Linked DNA regions of Homo sapiens: region 2 is linked to region 1. Evidence: fine-mapped expression QTL. A gene starts in region 1. The other region holds a variant in brackets. All regions are shown on one strand. Distances are from middle to middle. Region 1 holds the start of HBP1 (HMG-box transcription factor 1). Region 2 holds the start of LOC124901721 (a long non-coding RNA gene).

Region 1 (11,374 bases):
GAATCCACAGCAGGATCTTCTATATGCTCTCCCCTAATCCTGAAGGATTTCCATAACCAGTCCAGACTACACGCTCAAATTGTTTTCAAAGAGTAGGTGAAGAAAAGGTAATTTGCAATTAATTTCTATCTCTGAAACTGAGGTATTTTAAATGGATTACATAATTACATGCTAAAACAAGCCTCCATAACAAAGTATATTAAATGCAACTTTCTATACCAAAAGCATCTCTGAGGCTGTAATGCTGTTCTTTTAGAGTATTTTCAACAAAACTTCAAAAGATTTCACAGGTATTTGTCTACAACTCTAGTTTGCCACCGGGCTACAAGAAAAGACAAAACAACAACAAAAACCCTTAGTGGATTCGTTTTGGTCACTTACCACTTTCATGGCCCTGAACAATTAAATCTCTAGGCCTGTTTTCTTATTTGGACCTGTTTTTTTTATTTGTAAATAAGACTAGTGGCCAGGCCCAGTCACTCAGGCCTGCAATGCCAGCACTTTGGGAGACCAAGACAGGAAGATCGCTTGAGCCAGGAGTTCAAGACCAACCAGGGCAACATAGCAAGATCCCATCTCTAAAAAATTTTTAAAAATAAGTAAAAAAAAATGGGACTAGTACCTATCTACCTATCAGAATTGTTGTAGGTATAAAAGATATTACATCCCACAGACACTGCCCAATCCACATCTATACAAGTTCTTAGTAATTTCATGCTCATTCAACATGAAATACTATATTGATCAAGACAATAGAAAACCCATTAATAGCAGAAGCAGTCATCCACAAACTGTTTTAGGAGTACTGTCAATTCAAATAAGTATTTAAGATGAGTCATATAAGATAAGTCACATATTAAAACGACATCATCTAAAAATTCTTATGAAACTTGTTTTCCTAAACTTTGGTGCTTCATAATTTCTATTATCATTTTCTATGGAGAAACTAGAAACATAATTTTCTCCATAATGTGGTTCACTGAGTTTACAAAACTAAGATGAAACTAGAAAGTGAAATCAAAACTTCATTCTATAATTTATCAGTCGAGTAAGCACAAACAATATTTTGCTTTAAAGTGGTTAAATGGCTCCTCAAAAGTATAAGATAAACTCCTAAACATTTTTACATTATCTATAAAAACTTGTGGGAAAAGCTTTTTTTTAAAGCTATGATCAATAACTTTTAAAAACTCAACCACAATTATGGAGAAAATTATGTTTCTAGTTTCTCTATAGAAAATGATAGTAGAAATTATGAAGCACCAAAGTAAATGCTGATAAGTATATGAAAAATGTGAATGTTACTGATATCAGGCAATTAATAAGAATATTAGAGTATGCCATTTTTCCCTGAATTTTGTGATATGCAGGTATCTGGCAGCTTTAATTTTTTTTTAATTCATTGTGATTTATTTTTCCATTCTAAGTAAATACTCACTTTCATACTTAACAGACATAAAATTCCTGGCATTGACTCTTTTTTTTTTTTTTTTTTGGAGAGGAAGTCTCGTTCTGATGCCCAGGCTGGAGTACAGTGGCCTGATCTTGTCTCACTGCAATCTCTGCCTCCCGGGTTCAAGCGATTCCCTTGCCTCAGCCTCCCAAGCAGCTGGGACTACAGGTGTGCGCCACCATGCCCAGCTAACTGTTGTATTTTTAATAGACAATTTCACGACGTTGGCGAGGCTGGTCTTGAACCCCTGACCTCAGGTGATCCACCCGCCTCAGCCTCTCAAAGCGCTGGGACAGGCGTGAGACACCGTGCTGGGACAGTAGTAACTTCTAATGGATAATGTATGCGTGGGGTGGAAAGGGGAGTACCAGTATTTTTATTTCAAACACATATACAAAACACCAGCTTGCAATTCACCCTGAAGAACCCTCAGCACAGAGCAGTTTCATAAGTCCATGCCATCGTGCCATATGCCTTCTTCACTGGCCACTTCGATTAGTGAGGAAAGAATCCAAAGAAGTTAAAATATAGTGGGCCGGGCACGGTGGCTCACACCTGTAATCCCAGCACTTTGGGAGGCCGAGGCGGGCAGATCACGAGGTCAGGAGATTGAGACCATCCTGCTCAAAATGGTGAAACCCCGTTTCTATTAAAAATACAAAAAAATTAGTTGAGAGTGGTGGCGCTCACCTGTAGTCCCAGCTACTCAGGAGGCTGAGGCAAGAGAATCGCTTGAACCCAGAAGGTGGAGGTTGCAGTGAGCCGAGATCGCACCCCTGCACTCCAGCCTGGCGACAGAGCGAGACTCCCTCTCAAAAAAAAAAAAAAATATATATATATATATATATATATATATTTATACATGTATATGTTATATATTTTATATATATACATGTATATGTTATATATTTTATATATATACATGTATGTTATATATTTTATATATATACATGTATATGTTATATATTTTATACATATACATATGTATATAGTGAAGAAAACAACTCTTACAGTGACAGTATCATGTTTGACGTCTGAGAGGTATGCCCTGTGAAGCACACAGGATAGCGGAGACATGTAGGTGGGCAATCCTGGGAGAAGGTACCCTTTTAACTAGGGTATGTAGTTAGGAGTTTGAGAAGTTAAGAAAGAGGAAGGGTTTTCGAGACAGAAAAGATAAGTAGGTTTACAAAACTAAGATGAAACTAGAAAGTGAAATCAAAACTTCATTCTATAATTTATCAGTAGAGAAAGCACAAACAATATTTTGCTTTAAAGTGGTTAAACGGCTCCTCAAAAGTATAACATAACCCAAAAACTTTAGGGAGTGGATTTAATTCTCAATATAATTCAAATTTCCTTGAAATTTTGTCAACTACTGTCTACCTTGCAAGAACTGAGTTTAACCAAGGCAACTGAACAGATGACCGACTCTACCACACTCATTTGCAAGATAAAGGAAAATAGCAAAAAAAAACCAAAAGTACAAGACATACATTGCAGATTTAGATCACTGTTAAATGACCAGAAAAGTATTTCCAATGTTAAAATTATTCTAATTCTCAAAAAGTACCTTTAATTTCAAAACCACTATTAGGAGTGCTTACGGCTATTCAGAGGGAAGTATTAATAAAGCTAAAGCCTCCATCCGAGCTGTTAGTAGGACTCCATCGCTTCCCAGTATGTATAACTCCTTTTCTAAGCCTCCTCTCGTCCTGGCATCAGTGGCACCATGAGCCAAAAACAAAACAAACAGAAAACTTGAGTATTACCTCGCTGTCAGTGCTCCTTCTAAAAACGACTGTAGCTGAAAACTCCCTAAGAATGAACTCGAGTGTAGAGTGCACAGCGGAGAGTGAAACACCCTAGACAGCACGCAGCATTTAAAGCTACAAAAACCTGGCTGTCCACTTCGCCTGGTTTGTTTTGTTTTGTTTCAATCGGCCTGCGGTGGCAGCATAGGTTGAAAGGCGGAGACTGGAATCGCCTGCCAAGCCTCCTCTTTGGGTCACACAGAGCGGTGCCTCCCGGTTCACGCCAAGTCCATCCCCCACCCTCTTTCGCCATTCATCGCGTTCCCCTCCCTTCCCCCCATCATGTGACCGCAGCCCGGACTCCGGGCTTGTTTTTCCCCTCGGCTCAGCCCCAGCGCGCAGGCGCCTGGGAGCCCATTCATTCGAACTGCGTAACAATGAGCCCCGGGGCCCAGCGGCTCCGCGAGCTCCTCAGCTCAGCCAGAATCCCCCTCAGTCCAGAAGGAGGCGGCGCCTCACTGGGGTCCCCCACCTCCGGCCAGCCCCCCACCCCTGGCCAAGCTCCGACCCTCCGCCCACAAACGGGGAGTTGAAGTCAAACTTTCCTGGGCAGCCCCGGCGCTGCGTCGGCCCCTTCCCCCGCCCTGGCCCGCCCCATCTCCACACCCGGCCCGGCCACCCACCGCGCGACCTGGCCCGGAACTTCGCCCTCCCCCTGCCTCCTCCCGGCCCCCGCCCGAGACCCCCTAGCGCCGCCGCCCCGAAGCCCAGGTGAGCTCGCGGGAGACGCTGCTCCGGTGGGCTCGCCGCGGGCACCAATCGAACGGTTAACTGCCCCCACCCCAAGGGCAACCCTCCGAGAAGAAGGAACGAGGACCCGAGCCCTCCAGTCTGCCCAATCCCCCGCGCTCCTGCCCCTCCCTTCCCCACCCCCACCTCTTCCCTAACTGAAAGACAACAAACCTGCCGCGAAGTGCCGGCAGCCCAGGCGCGGGCCGCTCCGGCCACGACAACACCACCAGCAGCTCTCGTACCCCCTCTCCGACCGACGTCGGCCTCCCCCGCGCGGGTTACTGCTCCCGCGGCAGCTCTTACTCCTCAACCGAAACTTTCCTACTTACCAAACCCGTCGCCATTACCAAGTCTTTCAAGCTTCGTCTTCCCCCTCCCCTCAACCCCCTGGGGGTTGAGCCCCGCCCAGCTCTTTCGCCCTCTTATTGGACTGCAGAACTGCCATTCGGTTCTTCCCCTTTCCCATTGGGTGGTACCGTGGTCCGTCTCGGGGGGCGGGCATGTATTGACTTTTGTGTTGTGTTTACTGGAGAAGATGGCATGTCAATCACAAGAGTAAGTGCTTCGGATTGGACTATTGCCGAGAGTCCGGGGACCCAAGCCAAACTTTGTCCCCGAAATGGATTGTGGGTTCGTAGTCTCAAGCCTTGGTCCTTGGCTGTGGGAGACTGCTGGCCGGGGAAGAGCTGGACTACGTATCCCAGAGGCGCTCGCACAGCGCAGTCTTGATAGTAAACAAGAGTCATAGGGACACGTGTATCAGCTCGTTTGTTTTGGTGTCTGGGACAAAAGGGAGGGGGCGGAGGAAGGGAGTGTTTTAAAGCTTGGGCCTCTTCTTTTCCTCCGGGCCTCTGCTAACACTTAGAGCGGCCCAAGCCTCTTGCAGCACCCAATCCGGGCCATAAACAGCCAGAGTTGCTCGCTGCTCAAGAGTTTGGCAGGAGGCCAGGGTATTGTTTTAGTGCGAGGGGAAGGAGATGACTGCACCAGCGGAAGTACTGCAGGCTAGCGAGGGACTTGATCACCCACAAATCACGGCCCCAGGCACGAAGGGGTCGAAAGTGATGCTGGGGGCTGCACTGGCAGTGGGAAGAACTAGAAGTCCTTTCTCTTGTGCCTTGCCTCACCACTCCCAGGACAGCAACTTGAGATTGCCTTGTCAGCTCTGTTCAGTTCACCTAAGTTTGTTGAGCCGCCACCTAAGTGCCAGGAAGAGTGAGGCTGGGGGATGGACTGTGAGCAAGCGAGAAGCTGGAGTCTAGAGAATTTACAAAGCGGGGGCGGGGGCGGGCGATTACGAAATTGAGGCAAGTTAAAGCGGCATTTTCCATACTGATTAGTATGCTCGTTGGTTAACGTAATACAAAGGGTGTAATGTATGACGTAAACTGATTTAATTTGTGAATCATTATCAGTAAGTTTCTCTGGTGAGTTTTATTAACCCTCTTTTCCTTCTAGACGTTTTCTCATTGATGAAAGAAACTGTCTTTCCACTTCATTTCCACTAGGAGTTCCTCAAGTTACGAATTCTCTGACTCACCAGAGACGCTTCCCTGCTTTATAGTTAACTTCTCTTTAAACATGGCTGTCCATTCACAGTCGGCTGCATCTAGTCAATAATTGGTGTCTTTACCATTCACATTACAAAGGCATGATTAAGCTTTTTCCCCCCTTTGAACCTTTAGTGTTTAATCATTTAAATTGTGCTTTAGATTTTCTAACTTTAGATCACTAAATATATGCTTAGAATTAAGATGAGGAAAACCTACATTAGTAAGAAATCTGTAAAAGCAAACCTTTGGACAGAGCCAGAAATCACACAGCTAGTTATTTCTTTAAAACCTCCTGCATTTCTTGGATTTTTAAATATACCTGAAAGCCGCGTAACAAATCAAGAAATCCAAAATAAGCCCCCACATGTTGAAATCGAGTTTAAAATTCTTGAGAATTCCCCATTTGAATCCGTGAAGTGAAATTATAAAGTAGTCCTCCCGTGTAATCAAATACTTACTTTCTATGTTCACAAATAGTAATAAAGCATTCTATTTTTTATTAAAATAATTCAGAGGAGAGCCAACAGAATGCTTAATTTTTTCCCTGAGGAAAAAGGACAGGATTTGAATTTATCATCTTTCAGAAATTATTAGTGACTCAAAGAAATGAATGTCTCTGCTACTTTGTGTATGCTTTTTTTTTTTTTTTTTTTTTTTACAATGGAGGGTCATCGTGTACTAGAATAGAAAATATAAACTCTACTCCAACATGTAATTTCTTGACAAAAAAGAAAAATCTGTGAAGTTCACCTAATTATTTAAAATTGTTTTGAGATATTTATGTCTAACTCCTCCTAGAAAACTAAAAAACTTTTCTCTTAAAAAAAAAAAAAAAAAAGAGCTGGCAAGAGATTGACATACTGCTTTACCCCTCTCCAGTACACAAACTGTGAGATCTGCTTTCAGCTAAACCTTGTTTTTAAAAGTTAAACTATTTTAAAGTTTTTACCAAATGCCTTAGTGGTGATTTTTTTTATCGGGGGACACCGGAAATGGGGAAAAAAAATTCAACTTTAGATCCAGATATTGTACAATATGTTACAAATAATAATTTATCCTTTAATAGCTCCATAAAGCCTTTTCCATTCATTCAGAAACGTTTAGTTCCATTTTTTGACCACTGTGCCAATTATTGAGAATAAAAAGATAGAAAACATTTTTTGCACACTTTTTCTCATTTTTATCCAAGTCTTTAATATGAGTTAAATTTAGATAGTTTAGTCACAACTGATTAAATACTAGTATTAGAATTCGCTACACCTTTAAGTGGACACTTAGTCCAATCTTCTGACTTCCGTGGGGGGCTAAATGACCACATTAGTAGCTTATGTGTATTTACCAGAGACATCATCATTAATTGAGTGACCAATAAAACTAGCCAACTTATAAGCCAGAACAAAGATCAAAGTACAAAACTAGTAAGATCTCCTTGGAAATTTTTACATGTGCTAATTATACTCTCAGACTAAAACAGATATAACTACAGTTTTTAACTATCTTTCAGATGTTTCCATGATAAAATTGAAGTTAAAAAATCAGTTACTTTAAATAACACCTCTTCTTGATTGGTACAGTCACCATATCTATACACACATATACACACATAAAATGTATGCAAAAAAATGTCAAGAAATTGTCAAATCAAAATGTCTTTCCAGCGGTTTGTAAAGTTACCTCTGTTATCTTAAATATCAAGTTCTAATTTGTTAGAGATAGTAAAAAACGAACAGAAGAAAAACAAAAAACCGGTAAATCCTATTTAGGAGTGAAATAATGTGTTTCCCTGATTCCACCATATTTGACACACCAATGACTGCTTTGCTTAACTACAGAGAAGTTCAAGTACATGCATTGCCTGATATTGAAAATAATCACTTTGAATTGTCAAAAGGTAAACAAATGAAATCACATGAACAAGTACTAAATGGAGAAATTGAACACATGTATGGTCTAAGTACTTCTCAAAGTTTTCAGACAGCATCTTGAATGTTTAAACTCCAACAAATATCCTTCCATATACCTTACTATCCTTTCAAATGAGTTAATTTTCTAATTAGTTCAAAGTACTCAGGTAATTCAGTCAAGTTGTAATGAAATCCACAGGAGCTAATGATGGCCATTGTAGAAGTGAGTCATCTGTCTCCTGTTCCTGTAGTTCTTGATGCAACTGAAGTTTAGATTTTGCTCCGATGACCAGAAAGCAAGACCTTTCTTCAGTGGCTGATAAGCTAATGTCTTAACACTATAACCACATTAGGAAGAAAAATCAACGTAAAAGGGAAGAATCAAAATGATTGTGTCTCCAGCTTGGGTAATTGCAGTATGTTGGGGAAGGGTGGTTATGTTGATGTTATTGACTGAGGGAATGCTGGAGAGGATAGCAGATTTGGGGACTGGGAGGAAGGGAAAGGATAGGTTCAACCTCGGGTGATAAGCATGCTGTGCAGGAAGAAATTTGAGTCCAGAGGTCCTTGGGCAGCTGAATATATTCATCTGGCATTTAGGAAGTCCAAGTCTGGAGAAATAAACCTGGGTATCCTCAGGACATAGAGAGGAGTACTCATTTTTTTATCCCAATTTTTCCCAAAAAGTTTTTGTCAAGTCTAATTTGGTATAAATGAAAATGTATTTAGAGAAGGCAACAATTCTATTTCATCTCACTCTCGATGTTTAAAATCAAGCTCAAATGACTATTCTCATGTCCTGCAAGTTTTCTAGAGATCATTACTGTTATCTGAACTATTTAACACAAACTCTCACATAGTATTTTCTACTCCCGTCTATTTGGTATCCTAGGACCTTCTCTATGTTTAGTTGCTAGCAAAAAGTACCTCATTTTAAGTGCAATTAAGTCAGATAAAGAGCAATTAAAATTGTAGGAATAGGGCGGGGCACGGTGGCTCACGCCTGTAATCCCAGAACTTTGGGAGGCTGAGGTGGGCAGATCACAAGGTCAAGAGATCAAAACCATCCTGGCCGAAATGGTGAAACCCCATCTCTACTAAAAATACAAAAATTAGCTGGGTGTGGTGGCACGCACCTGTATTCCCAGCTACTCGGGAGGCTGAGGCAGGAGAAACGTTTGAACCCAGGAGGCAGAGGTTTCAGTGAACCGAGATCACACCATTGCACTCCAGCCTGGGTGACAGAGCCAGACTCTGTCTCAAAAAAAAAAAAGTAGGAATAGTACACACATCGCTTTTATCACACTGTGCTAAACTGAATATTGTTGCTTACATTTGTCCCCCCTCCACATTTACATTCTCTCCTTATCAGTCACCATCTCATGCGCTTTTTTTTGTCTGGTCCATAATAAGCTATTAAAAAAATACCTACCTGTGGAACAAATGAATAAAAAGGGGAGACAAGCAGCATGAATTTTCTCATATACAGCGTAGTGTAGCACTATATATAGGATGCTGGTCTGAATATTTGACTTTGTTAAATAACTTGCATGCACTTTAACTGTCACTTCCTCTATGTAATCATTGTTATTATTTGAGAACGTCTCATCTTTCAGCTATGTTTATATGATAAGCACTATTATTCATTTTTGTTTCCCTCACAGTGTCAGTCACTCAAAGGCAAACAAAGTATTGGGTTGCTGCAAAAGTAATTGTGATTTTTACCATTTTTACCATTTAAAAAATGGCAAAAACCACAATTACTCTTGCACCAACCTAATTAACACTTCAACTCCTTCAAGTTATACAGAATATAAGTAATAAAAATGTTGAGGATATTTAATTGTTCAGCTTTAAAGTGCAATTATGAGAAAATAGATTTACCAAAGATGTCTTTATAGTGTGCACCTTTCTTAAAATATTGCTTGGCTTTTAAAAAATGTCATTTGTATATACCTCAAGAATATAGTCATTATGTAAAGGAAGTACACTTGTATTAAATGTCAGCCCTTGGCCTAAGAGAGGTGATGAAGTTTCAGGGATGCAGAGTTTATTCTCTTGTTCCTCAGCAAGATCTAGGAAGGTTTCTGATTAGAACCAAGATGGAAAACCAGTCATCAATAGCAACTTTATCTAAGATTTTAACTGGTCATATTTCCTGTTCATAAACTCATTCGAAGGTCTACTTTGTAACCTTTCTTTTCAAGTTAAATAGAAAATATTTAAGGTTTCATGTCTGGGTTGTTACAGTCAAAAGCTACAGAAAACTTTCCCTTGTGCCTGAAAAAAAGGTCATTTTCTGTTTTCCAGTGACAGTAAAAAATGCATTTATATGCTATAATGAATCAGTTATAATTGGTGCTGATAAAACATGATTTAATATATATACATTTTGTAGTAGCATTTTTTATATTTGGAAAAATGATGAGACTCAGGCTATGGTTACATCAAAATCTGTGAAAACCACCTCCTTGGTAGGTAGCATTCATTTTTGTGGTGTAGACATTACTTCCCTATCATGTATCACCACATTTTCCTATATATGTGATACATACTTCTTCAGGATTTTCTAGGCAATTTTAGATTTATAAATTTGAAGCATAAAAAGGTAAAGAAAGACCCAGATCTGTTGGTCACATCAAAAGTTTTCCTCTCAAAATAATCTTATTCTCTGCATTGGAAACTATATACCAATTTATATGCCAGGCTCATTAACATTATTTGGGAAAATATATGAGGCCATGAATTGGATGAAGAATCAATATATCTCAATTTTCCATAAGTTCTGCCATTGACTCACAAAGTAAATGACTTTAGTGAAGTCACTGATTGTCCTTAGGTATACAAATTGAACTGATTTAAGGTCTCATAGTTATTGACACAAGTCTTCTGCAAATAACTGGTATACTTTACTGCTTATATTTCCATAATTCATTACACTTTTAAAGGGTTTTTATACCTGTGAAGATGAACAACTCTGTAGTCTATTCAACCAGTTTTGCTGCCTTTAAAAGTATTCTAGAACAGGTAAGGTTGTCTCAACTCATTCCAATTCTTCATTTTTGTCAAAATTCTTTCTGATACTTGGCATCAGGCTATACCAAACACTAAATTTTAGAAGCCAGCATTCCTTAAAAACTATATTTCTCTTAGGTAGTAAATTTTTTTTTTTTTAAGAATCCCGTCCAGCAATTTAACAAAGCTCTGCCTTAATCCAGATGTATGACTCACCTCTCTAGGCCTACACAGTATTAATTTTCCTTAAGAATGGCAAAGGTCATCTCATCCTTTATAACGTTTTTTGAGAGGAAAAATTCTATCAGTATCTTTAAAGATGCTTTGGGAAGGGAAAGAACACAGCGTTTTTAAATTTTACATTTCAATAAAATCCGAAGTCTCTTGCTTCATGCCGTTTCACTTGAAGAATTTTTAAGCTTGTTTGTTTTATGGACGGAGTCTCGCTCTGTCACCAGGCTGGAGTGCAGTGGCACAATCTCGGCTCACTCCAACTTCTGCCTCCCAGGTTCAAGCGATTCTCCTGCGTCAGCCTCCTGAGTAGCTGGGACTACAGGCACATGCCACCACGCCCAGCTAATTTTTGTATTTTTAATAGAGACGGGGTTTCACTATATTGGCCAGGATGGTCTCGATCTCTTGACCTCGTGATCCTCCTGCCTCAGCCTCCCAAAGTCCTGGGATTACAGGCATGAGCCATGGTGCCGGCCTTTTAAAGCATTTTAAATGGCATTTAGCCAGAGTTTATAATACTAATCCTAATGGTAACACATATACATTCACCTAAGTTGTGTCACAGGTAACGTGTATGTTAAAATATCTGCACTAAGCCCTAGTACATATGGATATGTAGAAAACAATACACACACACATACATACACACACACACACACACACACACAC
Region 2 (11,374 bases), 53 kb before region 1:
CTCTACTATTTTTTTTATTGTTTTTTTGTGTGTGTGTGATGATGTCTCGCTTTTGTCCCCCAGGTTGGAGTGCAATGGCATGATCATGGTTCACTGCAACCTCCGCTTCCCAGATTCAAGCGATTCTCCTGCATCAGCCTCCCGAATAGCTGGGATTACAGGCCCCTGCCACCATGCCCGGCAAATTTTTGTATTTTTAGTAGAGACGGGGTTTCACCACGTTGGCCAGGCTGGTCTCAAACTCCTGACCTCAGGTGATCTGCCTGCCTCGGCCTCCCAAAGTGTTGGGATTACAGGCAAGAGCCACCATGCCCAGCCGACCTCTACTATTTTTAAAATAATAGCATCTACTAGCCTCAGCAACATGGCAAAACTCTGTCTTTACAAAAGATAGAAAAATTAGCCAGGCATGGTGGTGCACATCTGTGGTCCCAGCTACTCGGTAGGCTAAGGTGGGAGGACCTGAGCTCAGGGAGGTCAAGGATGCAGTGAGCTGTGATTGGGTCATTGCACTCCAGCCTGGGTGACAGAGTGAGACCCTGTCCCAAAATATAAAATAAATGAATAAAAGTATTTGTTTGAATGGAGAATAAAAGACAAAAAGGAAAAACATGAAAATATCTTTGACTAAGATTGTCACTTGGGGTTTTTTTTAGGGTTTTTATTTTTTTTAAATTTTCTGCCTTATTTTATTTTTATAGTCAGAAAAGTCAAATACTATTTTTAAATCTCTCTTGCATTGTTTTTCCCATTTGAAAATAACCATGGAGCTAAAAAGTAATAAAAAAATGTACTAAAACATTACCCAATAAAGAGCAGGCGTGAGTTGACAAGAAAAACAGGCAGCCAAACAGCCAAAAGCCAGTAGGTTGCAATAGCCACAGAGGGCCTCAGTTCCAATTAGGGGCAGTGGCTGCAGGGGAGGGCAATGGGCTCAGTTCAGGGGTCCCTTCATAATGGAAGATGACAGTGCCAGCTGGAGTTTGAGTCCAGACCACACCCAGCATGTACACACATGCACACGCCCTCATACATACACACACACAGGCCTTAGTAGGTGCTCCCTTCCCCCATCATGCAGCCATCTGCCAGGGGGCACTTTCTTCTTGATGGTGATATTAGTGGACTATTTATGTAAGCCAGCAAGCTTCTTGCATATATTTACATTTTACTGTCTACATTATAGTTTCTCAGGCAGCGGGAATCTTTTCATACTCAGTAGAGAATGCTGCCTCTGAAAGCTTTTGACATTAGTGATTTGCCCCTGGGTGATTTGTATTTCTACACAAGACCCACGTGTCAGAGCTATAGAGACCCCGTCTTTGTCCACCTCTCTGCAGCATGGCATTATTCCCTAAGTAGTGTTTGTGAGGTTGTTACCTCAGCTTCTCCTGGCCAGAGGCCACAAAGCTGTGACCCTTGACATTGTCAGTATAGATCTTTGTGAGGCAAAGGGCAGAAAAGGGAGCAAATGCTCTTCACCAGCTCAGGGGCACAGACCCTGCCTTCAGGCAGGCCTCACCACCTTTGCTCCTGAAGGGACAGCTTGTCCCTGATGATGTCCACAGTCTTCTCGGCTGGAAGCTCATTTCCAGCTAGGCTTAATGAAAGGGCAGTGAAAGCTGTCAGGAGATAGGGGCTGTGTTCTGATGGATCTTTTAGCATGAGGAGCAGTGGAAGAAGAAAACTGTCAATAACTAGAATGTAGTGTTCCTGTCAATTGTTTTTAATTATAGGAGTAATGAGGGTTTTCTAGGTCTACAGTTTGTATTTATGATCCTCTGTTGATTGAAATTCCAAACCTCTGTGCCTGAATGTTTATAGAACTGAAAGAAGGCCGTCTCTGCAGCTTCCATTTTTAGCACCTTTAACACTAAGACCCTCCAGATGCATTCTGTCTTTTCTTTCCGCTTGTGGATCTGGAGCCCTTAACCCATCCCTTGAAATAACGGTTTCTCTGAGGTTTCGGGATTCTTAATTCTAAGTTTCAGATTTCAGTGTTACAGCCAGAAGGCAACCACCATCTTGGACTTAGTTGTTTTGTTGCTCTTTGCTACAACTTTGGCAGTGCTAAGCGCACCCAGGTAAACATGAAGAGTTGAATATTTAGTTTATCATCATTTTTATAATTTCTGACAACTATTATTTGGTTATTTATTTTATACCAAGCCTGTGCTGAGTGTTTTACTGATACTTCCTCATTTAGCCCTCACAGCACTTAAAAGTTAGGTATGATCCCCATGAGGCAATTAAAACCCACAGCAGCAAAGTGGGAGAATCTGGGAGTCACATTTTAGACCCAGGCTGCCTGATTCCAAAGCCTGTGCTTGTAACCACCATACCCCACATCTTATTCCAGAAGTTTCTGTTTGTTTTCTATCTGAATGGTCCCGGAACAGGATTTGAATGCTTACGTGTATCATCCAGGAAAATCAGAAAATTTTAAAGAGAATCTAAACTCCCCACTTTAGTGGCCACCTCCTGCTGCTGAAATGCCTCATCTCACTGTCTTCTGTTGCATTCAGGCTCCCAGACAGTACACAAGGAACACTCAGCCAAATGTATGCTTTTATTCTTAGAGAATGTCAGCCCAAATCCCTGCCTCCTTTCCTACCTGGTCTGCTGGTATAGACAATCTAGACTGAGACAGGGACATTTTTAACCTCTCTACTTTGAACCCAAATCAGCCTCCTGCTTCATTCTCTCCTGGGACCCACATGGCCCCTCGTGCCACAAACTAGGCCTCCCTAAAGAATCTCCATAGAAATGCTCACCTTCTACAGGCCTCCAACACTTTCTCTTCTCTCTCAGAGGCCCTCATTGTGTCCTGTGCAGAGAGCATGGCCACCTGTGCCCTGCCCCACAAAGGGAATCATGTTCCTTCTCCCACTCTTTCATTTCTGTGCTGCTTCCAGACCTCAGTACGCATACTTAGTGGTCTTGCTGCCTTCCCAGGCCCTTCAGCAAGAGGAGGTCAAGATGGGGTGATGGCAAGTGGCATGGAAGAGAATGATGCCTATATCTGTCTCAGGATACCACTGATGTTAGATGTGGACACAGGAGCAGCAGGATTTTTGCCTTACTTTACTTCATGATTGGCCTTAACAAGCTGTCAGAAGACTGACAGCTGCATAGCTATGAATCGTTTAAATGTGAATCTTGCTGAGTAGAAATGCAGTTTTTTTTTAATGAGACCTAATAGTTGACAAATTGACACTACCTTCTGCCTGTAAAGTTCACCCTTGAAAGTGCTGCTATATTTAGAATATTATGCTCTAAGAATGATATTGTGGCATTTGGTGTATCTGCATTTTATAACACCTTATTTCTTTTTGTTTCATAAAGCACTTTAGATGGTTATTTATTTTTTAACTTGCTAGTGTTTAAAATTCCACCTGGAATCAGGGAGAAGGGAGTGCTCAAGCTATGTTCTTTCAGCTTCTTAAAACAAGCACCCAAAACAAAATGTCTGTTTGATGTTTACAGGTAATTATGACAGTGATGCACAATACAGAGTCAAATCTAGTTTTGCTTTTCATGGATTTTTTGACAGTCCTGTTAAAAGGGACAGGTGAGGCTGGGCGTGGTGGCTCACGCCTGTAATCCCAGCACTTTGGAAGGCCGAGGTGGGCGGATCACGAGGTTAGGAGTTTGAGACCAGCCTGGCCAGCATAGTGAAATCCTGTCTCTACTAAAAATACAAAAATTAGCTGGGCATAGTGCCATGCGCCCCTGTAATCCTGTAAGCCACCTCAGAAGGCTGAGGCAGGAGAATCACTTGAGCCCAGGAGGCAGAGGTTGCAGTGAGCCGAGATAATGCCATTGCACTCCAGCCTGGGCGACAGAGCGAGACTCCATCTCAAAAAAAAAAAAGGGGGGGACAGGTGATTACCCAGAAGATTCCATTTTAAAATGAGCTGGTTCTTACCAGGCCTGGCTTAGACAGGCATCTCAGCCAGAAACCTCTGTGTGGGCTGGGCTGCTAGACATGCTGTTATGCGCATGTACTGTTCAGGTTGTTTCCCTCTCCTCGTCTGTCTCCGTCCTTGTCCTTCCCCTTCTGCCCTTCTTTCCTTCCTTGTATCATTTACAGTTTGCGTCAAGAATATATTGGAAGAAAAAAAGAAAAATGTAAATATTCGAACCATAAAACTAACTTAAATTGCTATAGATAAGTTTCAAACTTGGCTTTAAACTTCATGAAGCCAAAGATAAGAGAGAAACAGAATCAGCTATCTGATTCTCATTATCAGAAGGAAGAAAATGTATCAATTCCTAAGAGAAAGTTAAGCATCTCTTTTTTTTTTTTTTTTTGAGACGGAGTCTCACTCTGTCACCCAGGCTGGAGTGCAGTGGCATGATCCCGGCTCACTGCAAGCTCTGCCTCCCAGGTTCACGCCATTCTCCTGCCTCAGCCTCCCGAGTGGCTGGGACTACAGGCACACGCTACCATGCCCGGCTAATTTTTTTGTATTTTTAGTAAAGATGGGATTTCACCATGTTAGCCAGGATGGTCTCAATCTCCTGACCTCATGATCTGCCTGCCTCGGCCTCCCAAAGTGCTGGGATTACAGGTGTGAGCCACCACACCTGGCCAAGAAAGTTAAGCATTTCTTGGCACTTAATTCTAAAGTACTTATAAGGACTTTTATACAGAGAGCTTCATACGGGAAGTACTAAGAGATGGGAGGACCAAAATTCTTGATCACCTTCCTGTTGTAGAGGTAGTATAGGATTCCATATGGCTGCTGTTCGTTAACAATCAAGGACTGTCATATAGGGCTGAACCCCACCCCCACCCCTGGGGTCTTCTCACATCGTAAACTAGGGTTCAAGATGAACCCTACTCTATCACATGGCATGAGCAAAGAATGGGCTCTAATGGAGAAAGGGAAAACTCACAGGACCAATGTACTGCTGAACACGACAACCAGGGACAGCAGGACAGAAGTGAGGGCATGAAGCCAGGTGCAGTGGCTCATGCCTGTAATTCCAGCACTTTGGGAGGCCAAGGCACACAGATCACTTGAGGTCAGGAATTTGAGACCAGCCTGACCAACATCGTGAAACCCCCATCTCTACTAAAAATACAAAAATTAGCTGGGTGTGATGGCAGGCGCCTGTCATCAGCTACTTGGGAAGCTGAGGCAGGAGAATCGCTTGAACCTGGGAGGCAGAGGTTGCAGTGAGCCAAGATTGCACCACTGCATTCCAGCCTGGGCGACAAAGCGAGACTGCCTCAAAAAAAAAAAAAAAAAAAAAAGAAGGCATGAGTCCCGCTATCCTTTGCATCCCTCAAAGTCCCCTTTCAGGGCCTGGGCACACCAGACCTACAATATGAACTTGTGACCCGGTGGAGGGACTTCTTATTACACTTTTTCCCTGCAATAGCTCAAACACGAGAGCAGCCTCGTCACAATGAGCAGGTTAGAATCATGGGCTGGATTTGGAGTTTAGGGAGCTGTCTGGGAATGTCAGTTGCTCAGCATCCAGGGACCATAGGGCTGCAAGATATTTTAGCTTTTTCTGTTGGGGACAAATAGTAACCAGTCTATGGAGAGCAGAGCTGAGGCATAGCCTCGTCATCATTCCAACCCAGAGTCAGTTTCCAGAGGCCTTTAAGACAACACCACCCATTACCCCAGAGGAACTTAAGGTCACACCATGTGAAAATAATTCCGAAAGAGATTGTGATTATATGCTTCAAGTAGCTAAGTGACTAGAGGTCCATTTTGACCCAAAGATAGAATTTGGAGTACCCAGAGAGGTGATAATTGTGTGACCTTCAAATGATGATCCTGTACACATTAGTTTTCTCAGATAGGTTTTTCTGTACAAGTTGTTGACAGTTCAAAATTGTGCTTTCTCTAGAGGTCTTTGTTTCTGTATATACTGATTCTGTGAATCAGCATAGCTGTTCTAGAAATAGGATGAGTAGTTGCTACAGCTGATATTCTAAAAGAGGCTGCATTGCAGAATTAAGAGCCAGGCTGTCTGGGTTTGAATCCTTGCTTTGCCACTTCTAGCTTTTACTGGATTTCTCTATGCCTCTGTTTACCCATCTGTAAAATGGGGATGTAATAGTACCTAACTCATAGGATTTTTAGAAGAATAAATGAGTTAACATATATTTGTTTATTGTATACACTTATGGGGTACAAAGTGATATTATATGTGTACCGTGTGGGATGATTAATTCAAACTAAAACATCACCTCAAACACTTAGCATTTTTAATGATAAGAACATTTGAAATTTATTCTATTAGCAATTTTGAAATGTACTATGCATTCCTACCAACTATAGTCGTCATGTTGTGCAATAGATTTCAAAAACCATCTTCCTCCTGTCTAACTGTAACTTTGTACCCTTTAACTAAAACCTCCCCATTTCCTCCCCCCTTAGCCTCTGGTAACTACCATTCTGTTCTCTGCCTCTATGAGTTCTATTGTTTAAGATCCCACAAATAAGTGAGACCATGTGGTATTTGTGTTTCTGTGTCTGGTTTATTTA[G/A]CTTAACGTAATGTCCTCCAGGCTCATCCGTGTTGTCGAATGACAGGATTTGCTTCTTTTTGAAGGCTGAATAGTACTCTATTTTGTATATATGTCATATTTTCTTTATCTACTCATCCATTGATAGACACTTAGATTGATTCCATAACTTGGCTATCGTAAATAATGCTGCATTGAGCATGAAGTGCGCTATCTGTTCAACATGCCAATTTCAAGTCTTTAGGATATGTACTCAAGTGGGGTTGCTAAGTCATATTGTAATTCTATTTTTAGTTTTTTGAGGAACTGCCATACAGTTTTCCAAAATGGTTGTATTAATTTACATTCCCACCAACAGTGTACAAGGGTTCCCTTTTCCCCCACACTCTCACCACAATCTTTCATTTTTTTAAATAATAGTCATTCTGACAGGCATGAGGTGATATCTCATTGTGGTTTTAATTTGCATTTTCCTTATGATTAGTGATGTTGAGCATTTTTTCATATATCTGTTGGTCATTTATATGACTTTTTTTGAGAAACATCTATTCAGGTTTTTTGCACATTTTTAAATTGGGTAGTTTTCTTGCCATTTTTGTGTTCCGTATAGATTTTGAATGTTAGCTTCTTATCAGATGTATGGCTTTCTTCTAATCTATTAGTTGTCTTTTTATTCTCATTATTTCTTTTGCTGTGCAGAAGCTTTTTACTTTAATGTAATCCCATTTGTCTATTTTTTCTTTTATTGTCTCAGCTTTTGGGATCAAATCCAAAAAGTTACCTCCCAGACCAGTGTCATGGAAGTTTCCCCCTATGTTTTCTTTCTTCTAGTTTTTTTTACAGTTTCAAGTCCTTTCAAGACCACACCTTGACTTTTATCCGTTTTTGAATTGATTTTTTATATGGTATGACCTAAGGGTCCAAATTATTCTTCTTTAGATGGATATCCAGTTGTCCCAACACCCTTTATTGGAGAGGCTGTCCTTTTCCCATTGTGTTTTCTTGGCACCTTTGTTGAAAATCAATTGACTGTAAATGTGTGGGTTCATTTATGGGCTCTATGTTCTGTTCTATTTCTTAGTGTTTCTATTTATATGCCAGTACCATGCTATTCTAATTACTATATAGCTCTGTAATATAGTTTAAAATTAGGTAGTGATACCTCCAGCTTTGTTATTTTTACTTATGATTGCCTTAGCTAATCAGGGATTTTTATGGTTCCATATGAATTTTAGGATTATGTTTTCTATTTCTGGGGAAAAAGACATTGGAATTTTCATAGGGATTGCATTGAATCTGAAGATTGGTTTGGATAGTATGGACATTTTAACAATATTAATTCTTCAAGTCCGTGAACACAGAATAGCTTTCCATTTATTTTTTTGTCAATTTATTTCATCAATGTTTTACGGTTTTTAGTGTACAAATCTTTCACTTCCATGGTTAAATTTATTCCTAAGTACATTTATTCCTAAGTATTTTACATTCTTGTAGCTATTATATGTAGGTATTTTCTTGATTTCCTTTTCAGATCATTCATTGTTATTGATTAGATTTGTCTTAATTTTGTATCCTGGGACCTTATTCCTTTATTAGTTCTGTCTTTTGGTGGTATCTTTTTGGTTTTGGATATGTAAGATAATGTCATATGCAAGCAGGTAATATTTCATGTCTTTCTTTTCTATTTGAGTGCCTTTTCTTTCTTTCTCTTGCCTAATTGCTCTGACAAAGACCTCCAGTAGGATTATGAATAAAAGTGCTTGCTGACAGTGGACATCTTTGTCTTGTTCCTGATCTTAGAGGAAAAGCTTTCAACTTTTCACCATTGAGTATAATGTTAGCTGTAGGCTTATCGTATGTGGCCGTTAATTTGTTGAGAGTTTTTATTATAAAAGGGTGTTGAATTTTGTCAAATGCTTTTTCCGCATCTAATAAAATGATCATATGGTTTTTGTCTTTTGTTCTGCTGATACGATGCATCACATTTATTGATGTATATATGTTGACACATCCTTGCATTTCTCCCAGGGAGAAATCTCATTTGATCATTGTGAATAATCCTCTTAATGTGCCGTAGAATTGGATTTGTTAGTAGTTTGTTGAGGATTTTGTATCTTCATATCTATGTTCATCAAGGATATTGCCCTGTAAGTTTCTTCTATGTCATTTTGTGGCTTTAGTATCAGGGCCTCCTAAAACTAGCTTGGAAGTATTCCTTCCTTTTTGATTTTTTTGGACAAGTTTGAGAAGGATTGGTATTAGCTCTTCTTTAAACCTTTTATAGAATTCACCTGTGGAGCCATCAGGTCCTGGGCTTTTCTTTGATTGGAGACTTTTTATTATGGATCCAATCTCTTTACTCATTATTGGTCTGCTCAGATTCTCTGTTTGTTCTATTTCTGTTTTCTATTTCTTCTTGATTCAGTGTTAGTAGATTATATGTGTCTAGGAATTTTATCCATTTTTTTCTAGTTTACTGGATTTGTGGCCATATGATTTGTCATAGTAATCGCTCATTATCCTTTGTATTTCAGTGGTACCAGTTGTAATATCTTCTCTTTCATTTCCAATTTGATTTAAGTCTTCTCTTTTTCTTTTTTAGTCTAGTTAAGGGTTTGTCAATCTTGTTTAACTTTTCAAAAAACTCTTTGTTTTGTTGATTTTTTCCCCTGGTTTTCTAGTCTGTATTTATTTCTGCTCTGATCTTTGAATTGTTTTCCTTCTGCTAACTTTGGGCTTAAATTTGTTCTTCTCTTGTAGTTTCTTGAGTAGGTTCTTTATTTGAGATGTTTATTTTTATTTAAGTATTTGTTGCTATAAATTTCCTTCTTAGAACTGCTTTTGCTGTATCCCATACGTTTTGGTATATTGCATTTCCATTTTCATTTGTTCCAAGATGTTTTTTGATTTCTCTTTTGTTTTCTCCTTTGACCCATTGGTTGTTGAGGGGCATGTTGTTTAATTTCCACATATTTGTGGCATTTCAAAGATTTTTCCTATTATTGATGTCTAGTTTCATACCATTCTGATTAGAAAAGATACTTGATATGATTTCATTTCTCCTAAATTTGTTCAAACTTGGTTTGCGACCTAACATATGACATATCCTGAAGCAAGATACGTGTGCACTTGAGAAGACGTCTGTTCCCTTGCTGTTGGATAGAATATGCTGTATATGTCTGTTGGGTCCATTTGGTCTAAAATGTAGTTCAAGTTCATTGTTTCCTTATTAACTTTCTATCTGGATGATCTGCCGTTGTTGAAAGTGAGGTATTGAAGTCCCCTACAATTACTGCATTGTAAGTTATTTCTGTCTTTAAATTATTTAATATTTGCTTTACATATTTAGGTGCTCTGATGTTGGGTACAGATATATTTACAGTTGTTATATCCTCTTGATGAATTGACACCTTTATCATGATGACTTTCTTTGCCTTTTTTTATTGCTTTGAGCTTAAGTCTATTTTGTCTGATAAAGGGATAGCTAGTCCTGCCTCTCTCAGTTTCCATTTGCATGGAATATCTTTCTTCATACTTTCACTTTTATTCTTTGTGTCCTTAGAAATGAGTTGAGTCTCGGGCCAGGCGCAGTGGCTCATGCCTGTAATCCCAGCACTTTGGGAGGCCGAGGTGGGTGGATCACAAGGTCAGGAGATCGAGACCATCCTGGCTAACACGGTGAAACCCCATCTCTACTAAAAATATAAAAAATTAGCCAGGTGTGGTGGCAGGCGCCTCTAGTCCCAGCTACTCCGTAGGCTGAGGCAGGGGAATGGCGTGAACCCAGGAGGCAGAGCTTGCAGTGAACCAAGGCATTCCAGCCTGGGCTACAAAGCAAGACTCCGTCTCAAAAAAAAAAAAGAAGTGAGTTGACTCTTTTGTAGGCAGCACATAGCTGGGTTTGTTTGTTTGTTTGTTTGTTTGAGACGGAGTCTCACTCTGTCACCCAGGCTGTAAGTGCTGTGGTACAATCTTGGCTCACTGCAAACTCTGCCTCCCGGGTTCACGCCATTCTCCTGCCTCAGCCTCCCGAGTAGCTGGGACTACAGGTGCCCGCCACCACACCCAGCTAATTTTTTGTATTTTTAGTAGAGATGGGGTTTCCCCATTCACAGCATGGTCTCGATCTCCTGACCTTGTGATCCACCCACCACGGCCTCCCAAAGTGCTGGGATTACAGGCGTGAGCCACCACACCCAGCCAGCTGGGTCTTATTTTTTATACATTCAGCCATTTTTTCTTTTACAAATGGAGATTTTATTGCTCTTAAAATAATTATTGATAGGTAAGGACTCAATAATACTAGTTTGTAGTTTGTTCTCTGATTGTTTTGTGGATGCTTTGTTTCCTTGTTCCTCTCTTGCTGTCCTCCTTTGTGGTCTGATTGTTTTCTGTAGTGGTATGCTTTGAATTCTTTCTATGTATGTTTTGTGCCTCTACTCTAGATTGTTGTTTTGTACTTACCATGAGGCTTCCAAAAACCATATACTCATAACAGGGTATTTCAAGCTGATAACACTGAATTTTGATAACATACAACAACTCTACATTTTTATTCCCCTTCCCTACACATTTTAATATTTTGATGTCAAAATATACATCATTTTGTAATTTGTATCCCTAATTTGGGCTATACTTTTGTTTTCTTTTTTCTTTTTTTTTTTTTTGAGACAGAGTCTCGCTCTATCACCCAGGCTGGGGTGCATTGGTGCCATCTTGGCTCACTACAACCACCACCTCCCCGTTCAAGCGATTCTCATGATTCAGCCTCCTAAGTAGCTGGGACCACAGGTGTACACCACCATGCCTGGCTAATTTTTGTACTTTTGGTAAAGACAGGGTTTTGCCATGTTGACCAGGCTGGTCTGGAACTTCTGGCCCAA

The links.
Region 2: its variant is fine-mapped to the expression of HBP1 in whole blood (TOPMed, PIP 0.95).

The regions. Positions count from the first base shown.
Region 1 is chr7:107,161,982-107,173,355 of GRCh38, reverse strand. It overlaps HBP1 (HMG-box transcription factor 1), which reads right to left and starts at 4,353. Exons shown (of 11, transcript NM_012257.4): 1 at 4,171-4,353. RefSeq lists silencers at 3,654-3,873, 4,134-4,233, 4,252-4,825 and an enhancer at 4,544-4,703.
Region 2 is chr7:107,214,705-107,226,078 of GRCh38, reverse strand. All of the region lies in intron 19 of COG5 (component of oligomeric golgi complex 5), which reads left to right. It overlaps LOC124901721 (a long non-coding RNA gene), which reads right to left and starts at 4,017. Exons shown (of 3, transcript XR_007060472.1): 1 at 3,929-4,017. The variant G/A (reference allele first, on the strand shown) is at 6,513.